4 linked regions of the Homo sapiens genome follow. The protein of the gene in region 4 purifies or fractionates together with the protein of the main gene of each other region. This does not show direct contact. Each region holds a gene or a part of one and is shown on either strand. Other genes may lie near its edges.

Region 1 (4,436 bases), about 40 Mb from region 4:
AGGGACCTGAGAGTTTTCATTTGCAAGTTCCCAGGTGATGCTGCTGGTCTTGAAATCACACTTTGAGGACCACTGGCTGAGATCACTCCCAACCTCGTTTTTCTCTGAAAGGGATAGAAATTGAGGCGCGGCATCGGGTTACACAGTATCTAGCTGGCAACCAGGATCTAGTTCCAATTCCCTGCTTGGAATTATTTTCCAGAGCAGTTCCAAATCATCCCCTTCCTAGGATCACAAAAAGCACCTACCTACAGTGCATTCCGTGCTAATTGGGAAAATATGTCTCCTTCCTCCAAGGCAGAGGCAACCCTTTAGGCAGGTCCCAGAGATAGGTTCGGAGACCGAACAGATGGCCTGTAAACCTGAGGCAGAGGTCAGGCAGCCGGAAGGGAGGGGCTTTCTAGGGTCTGTGTGTGCGTTTGGGGAGACTGAAGGCTGCAGGTGGAGGATTGGCTGGGGGCTTGTCTGTTGGTTCCTCTCACCCCAGTTGATGGGAGTGTGGGCAAATTTCAGCCAGCAAGAGGAGAAGGGGTCAAAGTGTGAACTTTCTCCACTGCTTGGTCCTAGGGGGCCTCAACCTGCACCGCGGCACAGGACGGCCGCCGTGGCTGTCCGGGGTTCCCCCCTGCGCATTTATGCCTCCATCACCCTCACCTCTCGGCCACGGACAGCACCCAGGCGGTGGTCAGCCAGAGGCCAAGCGTGAGGCCGAGCAGCAGGCGGCCAGGGTGCGTGTTCATGTAAAGCTTGGCCACGAACCAGTGGCGGAAGCGGACTTGATTGAGAGCGCCGATGCTGCGGTAGGAAGCGTTGAGCAGGACGCCGCTGCGCAGGAGCACGGCGCGGGGCACCAGGTAGAGACGCAGCAGCATGGCCAGGGACAGCAGCGCTTCCCCTTGGCCCAGGAATCCCGGCCAGGGCTGCGGGGAGGTCAGCGGCGCCCCTAAATCCTGCACGCACGGCGGGCCCCGCACGGGCGCCGGGTGCAGCCCACACACCACCAGCTCCAGCACGATCTGCGCCGCCTGCCGCCCGGTCAGCGCCACGCGCCAGTCCCGCAGCCCGTTGTCGGTCATGAACAGCTGCCGGTAGGGGGCCAAGAAGGGAGGGGTCAGGAGCAGGTCAGGCGCAGGTCAGGCGGCGGCCCGCGCCTGCCTGCGCCCTGAGATAAGTGGGGTGTGCCGCCTGGCCAGGAGGGAGGGAGTGCAGGGCGGGAGAGGGATAGGGAGGGAGCGGGACAGGACTTGAGGAAGACATCTTTCCACTTTTTCCTCCTTCCCCACCACCCACCCCACTAGTTTCAGCCCACTTCCAGCCTTTGAACACTGACTGAGCGCCGACTGTGTGCCTGACATTGTTCTATGTGCTAAGGATACACAGTGAACCCAACAGACCCCCCTGCCTCCCTAGAGCTTGCATTCCACATGCCTGGAGCTCGCTCCTACTCCCCTTTCGGTTGACACGCGTAATAACTGTAATAATAATATCAGCAATAACAAAGCCATGGGCCGGGCGCGATGGCTTACGCCTGTAATCCCAGCACTTTGGGAGGCTGCGGTGGGTGGATCACTTGAGGTCAAGAGTTTGAGACAAGCCTGGCCAACATGGTGAAACTCCATCTCTACTGAAAAATACAAAAATAAGCCGGGCATGGTGGCGCACACCTATAGTCCCAGCTTCTGGGGAGTCTGAGGTAGGAGAATCACTTGAACCCAGGAGGCAGAGGTTGCAGTGAGCTGAGGTCATGCCACTGCACTCTAGCCTGGGTGACAGAGCGAGACTCCATCTCAAAATAAACAAAACAATAACAATAACAAAATCAGCATGTACTGGGCACCGTGGATACGCCAGGTACTGCTCTATCCCGTTTACATATTGTGACTTAGTAAATGCCCACAACCCAGTGAGATTGATATTATTATTGCCCCCATTTTATAGATGTGGAAGCTGAGGCCCAGGTCCCTTCCATGGGCAATGGCGCACTGGGCTACAGGCTACTTAGCTACTCTATGATAAGATGATAATGTGCACTGTTTACTGAGCACCTCTTATGTGCCAGGCACTGCTCATAGAATTGCCACACATGGCCAATAATCCCCATTTTACATGCAAAGTTATGATAGGAGAGGGGGAAGAGGGGAAAGGGAATGGAGCAACAGGATCTGGGGCAATGGGACAATAGGGGATGGGATGTGTCTGGGTGAGACCCAAGGTGGGGTATGGATGGGGAGAGCTCCTGGGTCTGGGGCAAGAGGGAGGTTATTGGCACAGAGATAGGGTGATTAGGAGTGGGCACCCCTGGGACCGGACCAGGTGCAGTGGCTCAAGCCCGTAATCCTAGCACTTTGGGAGGACAAGGTGGGCAGACTGCTTGAGCTCAGTAGTTGGAGACCAGCCTGGACAACATAGTGAAACCCCGTTTCTACTAAAATACAAAAAAATTAGCTGGGCGTGGTGGCATCTGCCTGTAGTCACAGCTACTTGGGAGGCTGAGGCATGAGAATTGTTTGAACCCAGGAGGTGGAGGTTGCAGTGAGCAGAGATCGTGCCACTCCACTCTAGCCTGGGCAACAGAGCAAGACCTTGTCTCAAAAAAAAAAAAAAAAAAAAAAAAAAAAAGGAGTGGGCAGCCCTAGGACCTTAGGTTGCTTGAGGACTGGATTGGGGATGCCATGTCGGAGCACAGAGATCTGGGAAGCTGAGTGCCTGGGAGCAGAGTGGACAGAGGCCTGGGGGCGGAAGCAGGGCTGCAAGGGCACTCTCAGCATCCGTGAGTGTGCAAGGGGGGGCTGGGGACTACAGGGGAAGGCGGAGCTGGTGGGGGAGGCTCTGCCTGTCTGCTCATGGTTCATCCCATCTGGGTAGGTGAGGGTGTGGACGCAGCACCTAGGGCAGAAGAACTTCATTACTCAGATCAGGAGGAGGAGGAGGGTGGAAAGTGTGAGCTGACAGGGCGCTGAGGGGGTTGGAGGGAGCAAGGCTTAGGGGCGGGGCCTGCCCTACCTGGACCTCTTTGGCATGAAAGGCCACGATGAGGCAGAGGAGTAAGAAGGTGGAAATGCTGATCGTGCATTTAACCAGGAACAGGTAGAGCGCCCACTGTCAGGGGGGACGGAAAAAGCGGTGTGAGATCCCAGGTCTCCCTCCGCCTGGCCCTCCACCTTTCCTTCAAAACCACCATTTTTTTTTTTTGATTCCCAATTTTCCTAGCCTCCTTCCCCTGCAAATCAGTCCCTCTTGATGTGTCGGTTCTGGAGAAGTCTCAAAACCATCATCTGGGCCCAGTGCGGTGGCTCACACCTGTAATCCCAACACTCTGGGAGGCTGAGGCAGGTGGATCACCGAAGGTCGGGAGTTTGAGACCCCCTGGCCAACATGGTGAAACCCAGTCTCTACTAAAAAAACAAAAAATTAGCTGGGTGTGTAATCCCAGCTACTTGGGAGGCTGAGGAACCAGAATCTTGAACCCAGGAGGTGGAAGTTGCAGTGAGCTGAGAGATCGCGCCACTGCACTCCAGCCTGGGCAACAGAGCGAGTCTCCGTCTCGAAACAAGCAAGCAAGCAAACAAACAAACAAAAAAACACCATCATCTGGTCCCCAGGAATGCTCTCTTTCTCCCCAACAGGACAACCCTGTCCAGATGCTGGTGTCTACCCTCTTCCTCAGCTCTTCTCCCAAGACCCATACCCATGAAGGGGGACCTTGAAACTCACATTCCTTCTTATTCCTGTCCCATTTCACATCAAAAATAGTTCTTCAGGTGTGTGTGTGTGTGTGTGTGTGTGTGGGTGTGTGTGTGTGGTGTCTAGAAAAAGACATCTAGCCTCTAGAGAGTGCCCCCTCCCCTTCCCTTCCTACCCACCTGGTGTTGTCCTAGAAACCAACTTCAATCAACCCCAACCCCAGATCTGGAAGAATGTAGAAACTACCATTCAATCCTCAAAGACTGAGTCACACCCTTCTCTGCTCTCATCCGGAGGGCTGAGTCCCTGAGACCCAGCCTCAGCTCTGAGACAGCCCCCTCGGTTCTGCCCCCCTGCAGCTCCCCACTGCCACCCCTCTCTTCTGGCTCTAAGCCCAGGGCAGATCTGGCCGGAAGCACAGGGCCTCCAGAAACCACGGAGAAATTGTTCCTTTTTTTTTTTTTCCTCTCTTTGTGTGGCACAACCTTGGAGGAATCTAGAATTCTGGAGAGAGGGATTTAGAGGGGACTGGGACTGTTGGATTTCCTAAGAGGGGTTGGTCCCTGCCTGGCGGGTATTTGCAGGGGGAGGGGACCACCTGGGCGTCCTTACAAAGCATTGCACCTGTTTCTCCTAAGAGGGCTGCCAGCTCCCCTGGCTGGGCCAGCATCCCGCCTCTGAGCAGGGGAAGAGGGCCAGTTTCCTGCCCCAGGGGCCTGCTCCCCAACCCCCTATCAGAACAATAGTGCTGT
Region 2 (4,436 bases), on a different chromosome or scaffold from region 4:
GGTTTCTAATTAAGAGGGTTCCATCTAGGAAACTTTCAAGAGAAAAACAAATCAGGAATAACAAATTGGGTTTGGGATGTATCTTGAGCACATGGCCTCTGTGATCCTTGGGAGAAGGAAGGCAGGCCAGGCTATGCCAGGTTTGCAGGGGCACTTTGGTGGGACAGGATGGACTCAAACATTCATTTATTCCCTCATTCCATAAATAGTTATTTATCGAGCACCTTCTCCATGCCAGGCATCACGCTGACTGCTGGGAATCGGTGAGGCATAGTTTTCATTCATAAGAAGCTTCAGTCTTTGTCTCAGAAACTCAACTCACCTCCCACACCCAGACAACCACTGGCCACCGTATGGCATTTCTGGCTCTGGACAGATGGGTCTCCTTGCTGTCCTTCTCTGACCTCCAGGCTGTTCTTCTGTACTTCCATTTTCTCTTTTTTGATTGAGTTGCCTTTCCACTTAGCTGTACTAGGTTAAAACTTCAGCCATACCTCTCCTTCCTCAAGAAGTCTTCCCTGCCCATCCAGCTGCACAGAGGGCCCTCCCCTTGCCATGAATTCCCATGGGATTCCAGTCTTCCAGTCATCCAGCCTAGGATGAGGGCTCTCCCAGGTGCCCCCACAGTTCCCTGTGTGGCCCTAAGCACATGTGAATACTGACCGAAGAAGTGCCTGCAGCCTCAGGCTCTCTCCTGAAGAGGTCCTTTTGGCCTCTCCCTGCAGTGGACTCATTGGGTCAGTTCAGGGCTCTGGAAGCCCCCTGTGGGGTCCTCTCTCCAAATGTGTACTCCACACCACCCACCAGGGGACCATGAGGTCAATGGGTGATCAAGCTGCAGACAGAGATGGTGGGACCTTGCTCCCAAGCCCCTGACCCCTCTCCTGTGTGACACACAAACTAGTAATACACAACCTTCTGCTTGGAGTAGCTTCTTCAACCACAGCGGGGGTGGGGGCAGAGAATGAGCCTCTTTCACTTGTCTGCTCCTGCCCGAGATCAATGGTGTCATATGGGAGGCAGCCAGTGGGGCCTCCCTGGGAATCCATGGCCTGGGGCGGAAAGCAAGAGCTTTGGTGGCAGACAGCCCTGGAGGCAGACCTAGCTCCCCCACCCCTTGTGGAATGAGGATGATTATTTATACTTGGAATGAGTATTATAAGGAGTCAAGTGTGTTGGCAGATGAAGGCTCCGGGAGAAATACCTTGCTTGTAGCAGATGTTTAATAACTCTTGACTTCCTTTGCTTCTAGGAGTGGGGAAGAGTGGCTTTGAGAGAAGCTGATGGAATAATTCCACCTTGGGGATTTATGTCCTAATCATCCGTGAGTGATTCTTTGTGACAGACGTCACTTGGGGGAGGCATCTTAACACTGAGTCTACTAAGCCACCACTGAAAATGGGAGAAGGTGTGAAGCATGGAGGATACTATGGTCAATGTCCCTTTCCTACTGAAAGAAGGTCCTTTCCATGTCACACCAGCTGTTGCCTTCCCTGCCTCTCTTGCAATAAGGGGAGGCCATGTGATTCAATCAAACAGGGACAGGAATCTCCTGGAAGGACTTCCGGGGAAGGTGTTCCTCCCTGGTAAGAGAGAAATGTGAGGAGAGCTGTTTGGCTGCCCTGGCTGACCCCTCCCTACCTTTCTTCGTTGGACACTTCTGCATGAGAACCTGAAAGCGATTGCGACCATCTCGTGACCACAGACAGTGAGCCTGAAGATGAGAGGCCAATAGACTGTGGATTATACAGTCTCGTCTGGGCTCTCAGTGAGTCACCTGCCTGCTGTGGTATGGAGAAGCCCAGCTCTTCTCCGTCTGGCCTGAAGGTTGTCAGCCTGTTGGAAGGGCAGCTGGAGCACAGCCCTGTGAGCTGAGGGTTCAAGGCTGGGAGAATGGAGGCAGCCAGGCACCTATGACCCAGATCGTGGGGGCAGGGCCAGAGATGTTGAGCCATCCAGGGTTTAGTGGCTATGGCTAGGGTGGGAAGAGTCTTTGAGTCAGAGTCCAGGGCGAGACCTCCCTCCCACCTGTTCCTCCTTTCTCCCCTGCCTTGAATTGGCTGGAAAATACGGAACTGGGAGGTCTGTGCAATTTCAGTTGGAAAAATAAGATAGCAGGATGGCTCACCCTGGGCACAGATAGGTTCACTGTGTATTTTTTTTTGTTTTGTTTTTAACCCTTTTGTGTCCCCTGCTGGACCATCAGACCTTTGAGGACAGAGACTATGTCTTACTCAGACTTGTATCCCCAGCACGTGGTCAAGGATCCACCCAAAGCACAAAATCCACCAGAGGGAAAACTGTAGGGGCTCCTGAGAGTCCAGGGGGCAAATGAAGACGTTTGTACTCAGGGCCTAAATGTTTGGACATAAGCCCTGACTTCAGCTTCATCTGACTTTCCTGCCATTGTTTTTATTTTACCTTTTTTTTTTTTTTTTTGAGGTGGAGTCTTGCTCTGTCGCCCAGGCTGGAGTGCAGTGGCACGATCTCGGCTCACTGGAACCTCCACCGTCCTGGTTCAAGCAATTCCCCTGTCTTAGCCTCCCAAGTAGCTGGGATTACAGGTGCATGCCACCACGCCCAGCTAATTTTTTTGTATTTTTAGTAGAGACGGGGTTCCACCATGTTGGCCAGACTGGTCTGGAGCTCCTGACCTCAGGCAATCCGCCCACCTCGGCCTCCCAAAGTGCTGGGATTACAGACATGAACCACCATGCCCAACCTATTTTACCTTTTCTTGTTACTTAATGTTACATTAACATATAATTAATATTAACATATCATATTAATATATGTTTTATATATAGCATGTATTTTAAATACTTACTGGAAGAAGTTAGCATCATGAATGAAAGAGTGACTAGCCCAGCATAGCACTGAATAATTCCCTCATTGCTGTGATTGAGAGATTACATTTTCTGGGTCTCTCATTACTCCTTATTAGATAAATCTGCTCCTATGGTGCCTAAGATTTAACTGTGCCCAATATAAATATTTTCTTGGCAGGCTGGGTGCAGTGGCTCATGCCTGTAATCCCAGCACTTTGGGAGGCTGAGGCAGGTGGATCATTTGAGGTCAGGAGTTTGAGACCAGCCTGGCCAACATGGCAAAACTCCGTCTCTACTATAAATACAAAATTAGCTGGGTGTGGTGGCACATGCCTGTAATCCCAGCTACTCGGGAGGCTGAGACATGAGAATCGCTTGAAATGGGGGGTGGAGGTTGCAGTGAGCCAAGATCATGCCGTTGCACTCCAGCCTGGGGGACAGCACGAGACTGTCTCAAAAACAAAACACAATAAAGACTTTCTTAGCTATTCAGACATGGCTTTCTCTTAATGTCCTGCTGGTGTTCCCTCAGAAAGGCCACTGTTAGCCATTTCTTCTTCTCTGGGCTCATTTTCCCACCCTGCATTATTTGAAACCAAATCACCTGTTAAAAAAGAGGTGGGCTGTCCTGGGCCCCTTCTAGGGCTGGCATCTAAAATTCTGTCTCAAGACCATAAGTTCCCTGGAGAGGCCCTTGTCTGACTTTCTCCCCCTGCCTCCTCACTGTCCCTTTGTCCCACAGCAATCCCTCTCCCCATCCTTAGCACTATGTTCTGTGCACACAGCAGATGAGCAGCTGTGAGAGCCAGGGGCTTTGACAGGTGAGTGGGCAGCTCCTTTTCACCTGTGGGCTTAGGTGGTCTGCAGTGCCCATGAGCTAATTATTACACCAGCTGCCCATATGTGGTCACTCTACAGTGAACAAGAACAACAGGCCAGCAACTGAGATTGTCGGCTCCCCGTGGGGCCACAGGGAATCTTGATTAGCCCTGCCACTTGCAGGCTCAGGTTTGTAGACAGAGATTTCAGGGTGGAGGGAGCCCACATGGATGCTAAGGACACACCTTTGCTCTTAGGGGATACTAGAAGGGCCACTGCTGTCTTATATTTTGTGGGATTCAGGGGCTTTAGTGGGGGGAATCTTACTAGGTCTTGGGGTTCTGAAAGGGGGCTGGGGTAAGGCTATCCTACTCCCTCACTCTCCCCCTCCCTTCCCAACATGGAAGTGTGGGGTAGCCCCAGGAGCCTAGGCCTACCAATGCAGGCCATGAGTGCTGGCCATGCCTCCTGTAAGCTGATTGCCAAGAGAAAACACGCTCCCCCTGGGCCACACTGCAGTCATGATCAAGCAAGGAGGTGGGTGGGTACTTCTCAGGCCTTCCAGCTTTCGTGCCCTTTTCCATTCCCTGGACACTCAGCTCCCCAGCGTCTGCCACTCTGATACTCGCTTCAGATCTCTCCTCCCCTGAGCAGTTCTGGGTGATGACACAAAGTCCAGGGTGGATGTGGGGAGGACAGGCTGACAACAAGGGCAGTGAGTGTCCCAGGAACTGAGGATGTGGGGCTCTGTGTCAGGATAGTAGATAAGTGAGTCACATCAGCCTCACA
Region 3 (4,436 bases), on a different chromosome or scaffold from region 4:
TCTTAGTTAAATTATTTTAACCTCTTTGGAACACTTAGGCTCCTCATTTACTAAATGAAAACTGGAGTATTTCAATGGTCTCTTCTAGTTCTAAAACTCATAATTTCCCTTACATTGACACTTCATAATATAAAGCAGTAGTCATTACTCATTTAATTAAAAACTCTTAATTCAGATATTCAATAACTATTTGTTATTTATGGAACCTAGTCTGCATGTGAGGATCTGGAAAACAAATATGGAAGACAAAATCCCTAAATAGATCTTATTGTGAATAATCTTTGCATCCCTTTTAGGAGGTTAAATAGTAAAGCCTTCTGAACAGTGCCCAAATAAAGGAATTATTTTGCACAGATAATGGAAGCTTGCCTATGCATAATAAATATTTTTTACTTTAGCTATAATCAGAGCTTCTACCAATATATAAGAATTTTCTCCTCTATATCCCTCAACTGCTTTAAAAAGAAAAATTATGGTCATTTAAACTTACTCACAAATTACATTTATAATTAAAATTGATTTCCAAAGTATAAATTTATAAAAATAGTTTAAAGACTCTCAAAAGGACTTCATCTTATATTCAGATTATAGCAAGAAAATCAATGTGCTCCATATATTTTACCCATGATGAAACTTGTCCCATATCCATTACTATATATATATATATATAGTTTAACTGGGTGGGGTTGGGAGGGAGAAGGCATGAATTCAAAATTTTAATTAAATATTACATAATTTAATGTTCTCCCAAGAATTTGAGCTGACATTTTCATATGAATACAATTTCACAAAGGTTACAAATATATATCAACTTACAACAGAAGGAATCATTTAGTATTTTACAGTGTTTTTAAAAATCTAGCTCCATAATCACTCTTGAAAAAAAAAAATCCTTACCACATAATATGAAAAGTCCACATTTCTCTGGAAATGCATAGTCACCTAATAGTAAGGTCCAAAATGAGAATTACTATCTCCAGAAGAGGGTGGAGGAGGCAGTGGTGGAGGGGGAGGGGGTGGGGGTAGGGAGTATGGTAAGTTAAGTAATGGATGAGCAGCCATGTTTGGTGTAGCCCAACCCATGTTTACAGGTGGGGGTGGTGGTGGGGGTGGAGGGCGGAGGGGAAAATTATGCATGTCAAACACTGGAAGAGGAAAGGGGTATTGTGGCATAATGGGATTATTTTGTCTCTGAGAAGGAAATCCTGAAGTCTCCTGAGATACCATATGTTCTGAGTTATAGAAATGCTGAGGTGGAGGCCTGCCATGGCAAGATCGAGGGTATCTGGCCCTGGAAAATCCTCGTGTGAATTCTCTGTTACGATATCCTTTTGCATGCTCTGAAGCAGAGCTATGAGCATTCCAATTCTGATGTACTTCAGTAAAATCTTCACCTTTGAGTGAGGGGAGGGAAAACATAAAAAGGAAAATAAGTTTAATATATCAAAAAGCATTGTTTGAAATTTCAATTATGATTTTTATTATCCAGTATATCTTGTGGCAGTTAAAAAAGTGTAAGACATAAAATGGTAAATTTGAAATGAACTGAAAAGACAAAACTTAATGCCAAAGAAAGAGAACCCAGCAAGTCAGAAAACACTTAGATGATAACCATTCTACTCTAGCCAAACACCACAGAAGAAAATGTGGCACCATCCCTACACACTCTCAAAGGCTGAGTACAGATCCTAGACTTCTATCCTTGACAGGCAGTAATGAGGTACTCCAACCCTTCCACCACAGTAGCATCAGGAACAGGCTGAACAGGGTGCCAGTAACAAGCCTCCCTGCAAACAATGAACATCACATGGGGAACCTGAACTTCCACCTCCACTGGCGGCAACCCAGTGTTCTTCCCTCTTTTACACTGGGGCAATGTCAGAGAAGATGGAGTAGAGTTAGGATTTTTGTCCCCAACCAGTGATAACAAGGCCATCCTCCACTGGTGTCAGTGCATACCATATGGGGAGGAGTGACAAAGTACTCCTGTCCCTACCAGGCATAAGACCTCGTGGGATGTCAGAACTTCTACCCTCATCCAGCAGTAACAAGGCACCCCTTGGCCAAAGGTGTCAACAGAGGCTAAGAGGAATACCTAGACTTCAATCTACCCTGTTCCTTTCGCTGCCAGAGTAGCATTTTTAAAAAGACAAAGAAACAATCACAACAAACCCAGCTAAATCAGAAGATTTACATAAGATCCATGGTCTTGTAATATAATACTCAATATACCCAGGTTGCAATAAAAGAAAATTGCTCATCACAAAAAGAACCAGGAAGACTTCAAATTCAATGAAAAAAATAAATCAAGCAAGGGTGTCACAAAGATGTTAGAATTATGAAAGGTATTAAAGCAGTCATAAAAATGCTTCAACAAGATATTATGAACATTCTAAAAAATTAAAATTACAAAGTTTTAGGAAAAAAAGAAGATATAAAATAAAGAACAAATTGCAATTTTAGAACTGAACATTACAATAACCAAAATTAAAAACTCAATGGAACAATATTGAAGGAGAAGAACAAAGCTGGAGGACGGAAACTACCCAACTTCAAGACGTATTATAAAGTTTAAGTAATCACAGCAGTGTGGTACTGGTGAAAGGACACACAAATAAATCAATGGGACAAAATAGAAGGTACAAAAATAGACCCACATAAACATACAAAAATAGACCCACATAAACATAATAAACGGATATTTAACGAAGGAGCAAAAGCAATACAACAGAGCATAAGTAGTGTTTTCAACAAATGGGGCTGGAACACCTGGACATCCACATGCAAAAAGAATAAATCTAGACAATAACCTTACACCGTTCACAAGAATTAATTCAAAATGGACCACAGACCTCAATGTAAAATGCAGAATTACAAAATTCCTAAAAGATAACATAGAAGAAAATTTAGACAACCTTGGGTTGATAATGACTCTTTTTTTAGAGACGGAGTCTCGCTCTGTAGCCCTGGCTGGAGTGCAGTGGCACGATCTCAGCTCACTGCAACCTCCGCTGCCCGGGTCCCAGCTGACGCAATTCTCCTGCCTCAGCCTCCCAAGTAGGAATGCGCCACCATGCCCAGCTAATTTTTGTATTTTTAGTAGAGATGGGGTTTCACCATGTTGACCAGGCTGGTCTTGAACTCCTGACTTCCTGATCTGCCTGCCTCGGCCTCCCAAAGTGCTGGGATTACAGGCATTGGGCCACTGCGCTCGGCCAATAATGACTTTTTAGATAATGACTTCTTAGATAGGACATCAAAGGCATGACCCATGAAAGAAATAATCAATATGCTGAATTTCATTAAACTTAACAATTTCTGCTCCACGAAAGATACTATCAGGAGAATGAAAGAAAAAAGCTCAGAAGTTCAAGGTTACAGTGAGCTATGATTGTACCACTGCATTCTAGCCTGGGCAACAGAGCAAGAATATCTCAAAAAACAGACAAAAACAAAAACAAAAACAAAAAAACCTCAGCAAGACATTTGTTGATGTAGAGAAGATTCTAAAATTTATACTGAAAGGTAAAGGACCTAGAATACCGATTATAATTTTGAAAAAGAGAAATAAAGTAGGAGTTATCACTCCACGCAATTTTAAGACTAACCTCACATTCTATACAAAATTTAACTCAAAATGAATCACAAGTGTACAATTTAAAACAGAAGACTACAAAACTTTTAGGGAAAAAATAGAAGAAAATCATTAGGATCTAAAGCTAAGCAGGAAGTTCTCAGATTCCATAAACAAAATTGATAAATTAGTTTTCCTCAAAACTAAAAACTTTAGTATTGCAAAAGGCCATCTTAAAAGAAGGAAAAGACTACAGACTAGAACAAATCATGAACGAACCAAATATTTGACAGAAAGCTAGTATCTAAAATATACATTTTTAAATTCTCGTAACTCGACAGTAAAAATCCAGCAATACAATTTAAAAGTTGGCAAAAGATAATGAACTGACATATCACTGAAGATACCGATAGTAAATGAACACATGGAAAGATGTTCAATGCCATTAGCCATTAGGAAAATGCAAATTAAAACCACAATTATATTAGCACTACAAACCTAGCAGAATGGCCAAAATTAAAAACAGTGATAACACCAAATGCTGGAGAAAATGCAAAGAAATTGTCACTCATACATCGCTGATAAAAATGTAAAATGGTATAGCCATGCTGAAGAACAGTATGGTAGTTTCTTAGGAAACTAAACATGTAATGCAACTATTATACAACCAAGCAATTATACTCTTGGGCATTTATTCCAGAAAAATGAAAACCTCTTTTCACAAAAAACCTGTATATAAATATTTATAGCTGCTTTATTCCTAATAACCCCAAAATGGAAACAACCTAGATGTCCTTCAATGGATGAATGGTTAGGTAATCTGGTAAATTCATGCCATGAAATGTTACTCTGTAATGAAGAG
Region 4 (5,373 bases):
GGCTCTCGGTTTTGTTGGGGCCAAAAGGGCTGATGGAGGGGAGGATGATGAGGGCAAAGGACAGCAACAGGACCTGGTGGAGACAGCGGCAGAGTCACCCCCTCCCTCCCCTCCCCTGCAAGCATCTCCATCCCACAGGCAGGGAAACTGAGGCCCCAAAGACCAGACTGGATCATACTTGAGCTGGGGCACAAGGAGAGCTTGGACTCATTGTCACCTCCCTATGGGCCCCTCTACAGAAGCCTAGGTCCCCGGCTTGCCTGGGGGCACCAGGACTCACTGCGACACAGGTGCCTGTCTGGGCTGACTTGCTGGTGGACTGCACCACAATGGCCTGGAGTTTCTTCAGTTGCTCCAAGAGGGACCTTAGAGAGACAGGCAGGCCTCCGCTGAGCCCTAAAGGGCCTCGGTTCTGCTTCTCGTCCATTTCCGGGGTCCCCCAGCCCCGCTAAAGTCCAAATTCCATCCATTCTTCAAGGGCCTCTGGCTCTTTATTATTTATTTTATTTATTTATTTATTTGTTTATTTATTTATTTATTTATTTTGAGACAGAGTCTTGCTCCATCGCCCAGGCTGGAGTGAGTGGTGGGATGGCAGCTCACTGCAAGCTCCGCCTCCCAGGTTCACACCATTCTCCTGCCTCAGCCTCCCGAGTAGCTGGGACTACAGGCGCCCACCACCACACCCAGCTAATTTTTTTTGTATTTTTAGTAGAGACGGGGTTTCACCGTGTTAGCCAGGATGGTCTTGATCTCCCGACCTTGTGATCCGCCCACCTCAGCCTCCCAAAGTGCTGGGATTACAGGCGTGAGCCACCACACCAGGCCTTATTTATTTATTTTTGAGACAGAGCCTTGCTCTGTCACCCAGGCTGGAGTGCAGTGGTGCGATCTCGGCTCACGGCAACCTCCGCCTCCCGAGTTCAAGCAATTCTCCTGCCTCAGCCTCTCGAGTAGCTGGGACTGCAGGTGCCCGCCACCACGCCTGGCTAATTTTTTTGTATTTTTAGTAGAGACGGGGTTTCACCATGTTGGCCAGGCTGGTTTTGAACTCCTGACCTCAGGTGATCCACCCGCCTCGGCCTCCCAAAGTGCTGAGATTACAGGCGTGAGCCACTGCACGCGGCCCATAGGTAAAACTCTTATTCCCTATGTCATTCTGCCATCACATGGGCTCTCTGCTCTTCCTGCAAAGGGACTCTGGGGCTGCTTCCCCTGTCCTCTGCCCCAGCTGGACCCAGACTCACAGGTTTTGCTTCTCGAGATGCAAGACTTTCCTCTGTAACTCCTGATTCTGAGCAGTGCAAGCTGACATCCTGAAAGGAGGAAGACGCATCGACATTCAGCATATGCCAGTCACCAGCTGGCCCCACTGACATCTCCCCCAGAGGCCTCACGTTACAAGCCAAGAGAACCCAAGGCCAGAGAGGGGAAGTCATTCATCCAAGGTTACTCGGCAGGTCAGACAGGGCTGGGATTTGAACCCACATCTGCCTGGTTCCTAGGTCCCATTTCTGCATTAATATGGAGGGGGCTTCATTCAAAGCTGAGCCCCCTGGATGGGTGTGGTGGTTCACACCTGTAATCCCAGCACTTTGGGAGGCCGTGGTGGGCGGATCACCTGAGGTCAGGAGTTCAAGACCAGCCTGGCCAACATGGTGAAACCCTGCCTGTACTAAAAATGCAAAATTAGCCAGGTGTGGTGGTGGGCGCCTATAATTCCAGCTACTTGGGAACTTGGGAGGCTAAGGCAGGAGAATCGATTGAACCCGGGAAGTGGAGGTTGCAGTGAGTCAAGATCGCACCATTGCACTCCAGCCTGGGCAACAAGAATGAAACTCTGTGTCAAAAAAAAAAAAAAAAAAAAAAAAGCTGAGCCTCCTAGATTCAGGCAGTGATGTTTCCAGAAGATGAAATATCAGGACAACCAGGCATCCTGGGAGACTCAAGTTTCTTTTTTTGTTTGTTTGTTTTTTGAGATGGAGTCTCGCTCTGTCGCCCAGGCTGGAATGCAGTGGCACAATCTCGACTCACTGCAAGCTCTGCCTTCTGGGTTCACGCCATTCTCCTGCCTCAGCCTCCCGAGTAGCTGGGACTACAGGCACCCGCCACCAAGCCCAGTTAATTTTTTTGGATTTTTTGTAAAGACAGAGTTTCACCGTGGTCTCGATCTCCTGAACTCGTGATCCGCCTGCCTCAGCCTCCCAAAGTGCTGGGATTACAAGTGTGAGCCACGGCGCCCGGCCGAGATTCAAGTTTCATCTCTCCCTCTCCCCATGACCTTGGGCCACTCCACTCTCTGATCTCAGCTTTTGTGTCTGTAAAATGGGATACAATTACCCAGGACATAGGGTGGTGGGGGGAATGACCCTGGATAAAGATGATCAGGAGCTTAGCAGATTGCATTTAAGAAAGGGGAGAGACCAGGCGCAGTGGCTCACGCCTGTAATCCCAGCACTTTGGGAGGCTGAGGCGGCCAGATCACCTGAGGTCAGGAGTTTGAGACTAGCCTGGGCAACACAGTGAAACCCCATCTCTACCAAAAATACAAAGAAATTAGCTGGGCGTGGTGGCCATGCACCTGTAATCCCAGCTTCTGGAGAGGCTGAGGCAGGAGAATCGCTTGAACCCGGGAGGTGGAGGTTGCAGTGAGCCAAGATCGCACCACTGCACTCCAGCCTGGGTGATAGAAGGAGACCCTTCCACACACACAAAAAGGAAGTGTCTATCTTCAGGCAGAGGGTCAGAATAGGATGGGTCACACTTTGTCCTTTTTCCGCACACCTTCTAGGGGGCAAAGGGTCCCCCAAACCCTTGTCCTACACCATCACTAGGCATCTTTCCATCCCTGCAATCAGTAAGAAGCATGATCTCTCCCAGAGAGGAGAATCACCTCCAATTTTGTCAGACTCTAAGCTGTGTGGCCTTAGCCACATCTCCTTCTCTCTGGGCCTCAGTTTCCTCCACGAGTGTAGAGTCTGGGTCCAGCACTACCCACCGAGTCTCCAGGCCATCGATATATTCCTTCTTCTTCTTCCTGCTTTCTTGCGCCGACTGCTTGTTCCGGATTTTCCGGCGGATTTTTTTCAGCACTCGCTCCTCGTACTGCCAAGTGAAATGGGGAGGAGGGTTTCAGGCCAGAAAGTCCCCACTTGGAGTCCGGGGGCAGTAGCTCTCGCCTGTAATCCCAGCACTTTGGGAGGCCGAGGCAGGCGTATCACCTGAGGTCAGGAGTTCGAGACCAGCCTGGCCAACATGGTGAAACACCGTCTCTACTAAAAATACAAAAATTAGCCAGGCATGGTGGCGGGTGCCTGTAATCCCAGCTACTCGGGAGGCTGAGGCAGGAGAATGGCATGAACCCGGGAGGCGGAGGTTGCAGTGAGCCAAGATCGTGCCATTGCAATCCAGCCTGGGCAACAAGAGCGAAACTCCATCTCAATAAATAAATAGATAAATAAATAAATAAATAAATAAATAAAATAATTAAAATTAAAAAATTAAAGTCTTCACTTTGGGGATGGTGCGACAGTCCCCACTGTCCTGACCCCACTTCACCTAACCTCGACCCCACAACTTCACCCCATCCTCTTTGCATACAAGACATCCCGGAGCCAAGGACCCAGAGGCAGATTCCTAATGACTTGAAGCTACCCTTTGCCCAAACCCTCACAGAGTCTCTGGGAGGTGCCTGGGTTCTGAGGGTCTTTTCCCAGCTCCCAATACTGTAAAATGGGCAACTGCCCACCAGACTTTGGGCATGGGTACCACTCCACCACCTTGTGGCCATCCCTGGAAACATCACCTTTCCCTGGCGACAGCAAGTGTTTTAAGACTAATTAATAATTTTTTTCTTCTTTCTTACGTTTCTTTCTTTTCTTTCCTTTCTTTTCCCCTCCCTCCCTCCCTCCCTCCCTTCCTTCCTTTCTCCCTTTCTCTCTTTCTCTCTTTCTCTTTCTCTTTCTCTCTTTCTTTCCTTTTCTTCCTTTCTTTCCTTCTTTTCTTCCTTTCTTTCTTTCCTTTCTTTCTTTCTTTTCTTTCTTTTCCTTTCTTTCTTTCTTTCTTTTCTTTCCTTCCTTTTCTCTCTCTCTCTCTCTCTCTCTTTCTTTCTTTCTTTCTTGTTTCGCTCTTGTCACCCAGGCTGGAGTGCAGTGGCAAGATCTCAGCTCACTGCAACCTCCACCCCCAGGGTTCAAGTGATTCTCCCACCCCAGCTTCCCAAGTAGCTGGGATTACAGGTGCACAACACCATGCCTGGCTAATTTTTGTATTTTTAGTAGAGACAGGGTTTCACCATGTTGGCCAGGCTGGTCTCAAACTCCTGACCTCAGGTGATCCGCCCATCTTTGCCTCCCAAAGAGCTGGGATTACAGGCATGAGACACCACACCCGGCCAATAAGTGTCTTCAAATGGGAATGTCAGGCTGGGCGCGGTGGTTCACAGTGCTGTAATCCCAGCACTTTGGGAGGCCAAGGCAAGAGGATCGCATAAGTCCAGGAGTTCAAGACTAGACTGGGCAACATTTAGTAAAGACCCTGTCTCTACTAAAACAAAACAACAACCACAAAATCAGCTGGGTGTGGTGGTGCATGCCTATAGTCCCAGCTACTTGGGAGGCTGAGGCAGGAGGATCCCTTGAGACCAGGAGTTCAAGGTTGCAGTTAGCTGCTACCTGCAGATTGTACCACTGCACTCCAGCCTGAGCGACAAAGTGAGATCCTATCTCAAAACAAACAACAACAACAATAGAAACAGATGGGGCCAGGCACGGTGGCTCACACCTGTAATCTTAACACTTTGGGAGGCCAAGGTCAGAGGACTGCTTGAGGCCAGGAGTTTGAGACCAGCCTGGGCAACATAGCAAGACCCTGTCTCTAAGGAAAAAAAAAAATGCTGGGCGCAGTGGCTCACACCTGTAATCCCAACACTTTGGGAGGCTGAGCTGGGCAGATCACAAGGTCAAGAGATCGAGACCATCCTGGCCAACATGGTGAAACTCTGTCTCTACTCAAAAAAAAAAAAAAAAAAAAAAATTAGCCAGGCGTGGTGGCGCGTGCCTGTAATCCCAGCTACTTAGGAGGCTGAGGCAGGAGAATCACTTGAACCTGGGAAGCGGAGGTTGCAGTGAGCCGAGATCGCGCCACTGCACTCCAGCCTGGGCAACAAAAGCGAAACTCCGTCTCAGGAAAAAAAAAAAAATTAGCTAGGCATAATGGCATACACCTGTAGTCCCAGCTGCTAGGGAGGCTGATGTGGGAGAATCACTTGTACTCCAGAGGGGGAAGTTGGAGTGAGCCAAGATCACCTCACTCCACTCCAGCCTGGGCAACAGAGTCAGAACCTGTCTCAATAGAAAAAAAAAAAAAACAGAT

What was found. Proteins that work in one complex are often made in the same cells at the same time.
Region 1: the proteins of CREB3L3 (region 4) and KCNN4 purify together in Homo sapiens (affinity purification with mass spectrometry; one large-scale study listed by BioGRID and IntAct). This does not show direct contact.
Region 2: the proteins of CREB3L3 (region 4) and MAPK4 purify together in Homo sapiens (affinity purification with mass spectrometry; one large-scale study listed by BioGRID and IntAct). This does not show direct contact.
Region 3: the proteins of CREB3L3 (region 4) and NAF1 purify together in Homo sapiens (affinity purification with mass spectrometry; one large-scale study listed by BioGRID and IntAct). This does not show direct contact.

The regions. Positions count from the first base shown.
Region 1 is NC_000019.10:43,773,538-43,777,973, forward strand, and holds part of KCNN4 (intermediate conductance calcium-activated potassium channel protein 4), read right to left. Parts: intron 3,100-4,436; coding exon 3,004-3,099; intron 1,083-3,003; coding exon 655-1,082; intron 364-654; exon of another isoform or gene 363-363; coding exon of another isoform or gene 266-362; exon of another isoform or gene 260-265; coding exon of another isoform or gene 249-259; intron 1-248. UniProt on the Homo sapiens protein: Intermediate conductance calcium-activated potassium channel that mediates the voltage-independent transmembrane transfer of potassium across the cell membrane through a constitutive interaction with calmodulin which binds the intracellular calcium allowing its opening.
Region 2 is NC_000018.10:50,717,087-50,721,522, reverse strand, and holds part of MAPK4 (mitogen-activated protein kinase 4), read right to left. Parts: intron 1-4,436. UniProt on the Homo sapiens protein: Atypical MAPK protein. Phosphorylates microtubule-associated protein 2 (MAP2) and MAPKAPK5.
Region 3 is NC_000004.12:163,127,955-163,132,390, forward strand, and holds the end of NAF1 (H/ACA ribonucleoprotein complex non-core subunit NAF1), read right to left. Parts: intron 1,395-4,436; coding exon 943-1,394; 3' UTR 715-942; downstream 1-714. UniProt on the Homo sapiens protein: RNA-binding protein required for the maturation of box H/ACA snoRNPs complex and ribosome biogenesis.
Region 4 is NC_000019.10:4,166,083-4,171,455, reverse strand, and holds part of CREB3L3 (cyclic AMP-responsive element-binding protein 3-like protein 3), read right to left. Parts: intron 3,106-5,373; coding exon 2,999-3,105; intron 1,317-2,998; coding exon 1,248-1,316; intron 366-1,247; coding exon 281-365; intron 74-280; coding exon 1-73. UniProt on the Homo sapiens protein: Transcription factor that may act during endoplasmic reticulum stress by activating unfolded protein response target genes. Activated in response to cAMP stimulation. In vitro, binds to the cAMP response element (CRE) and box-B element.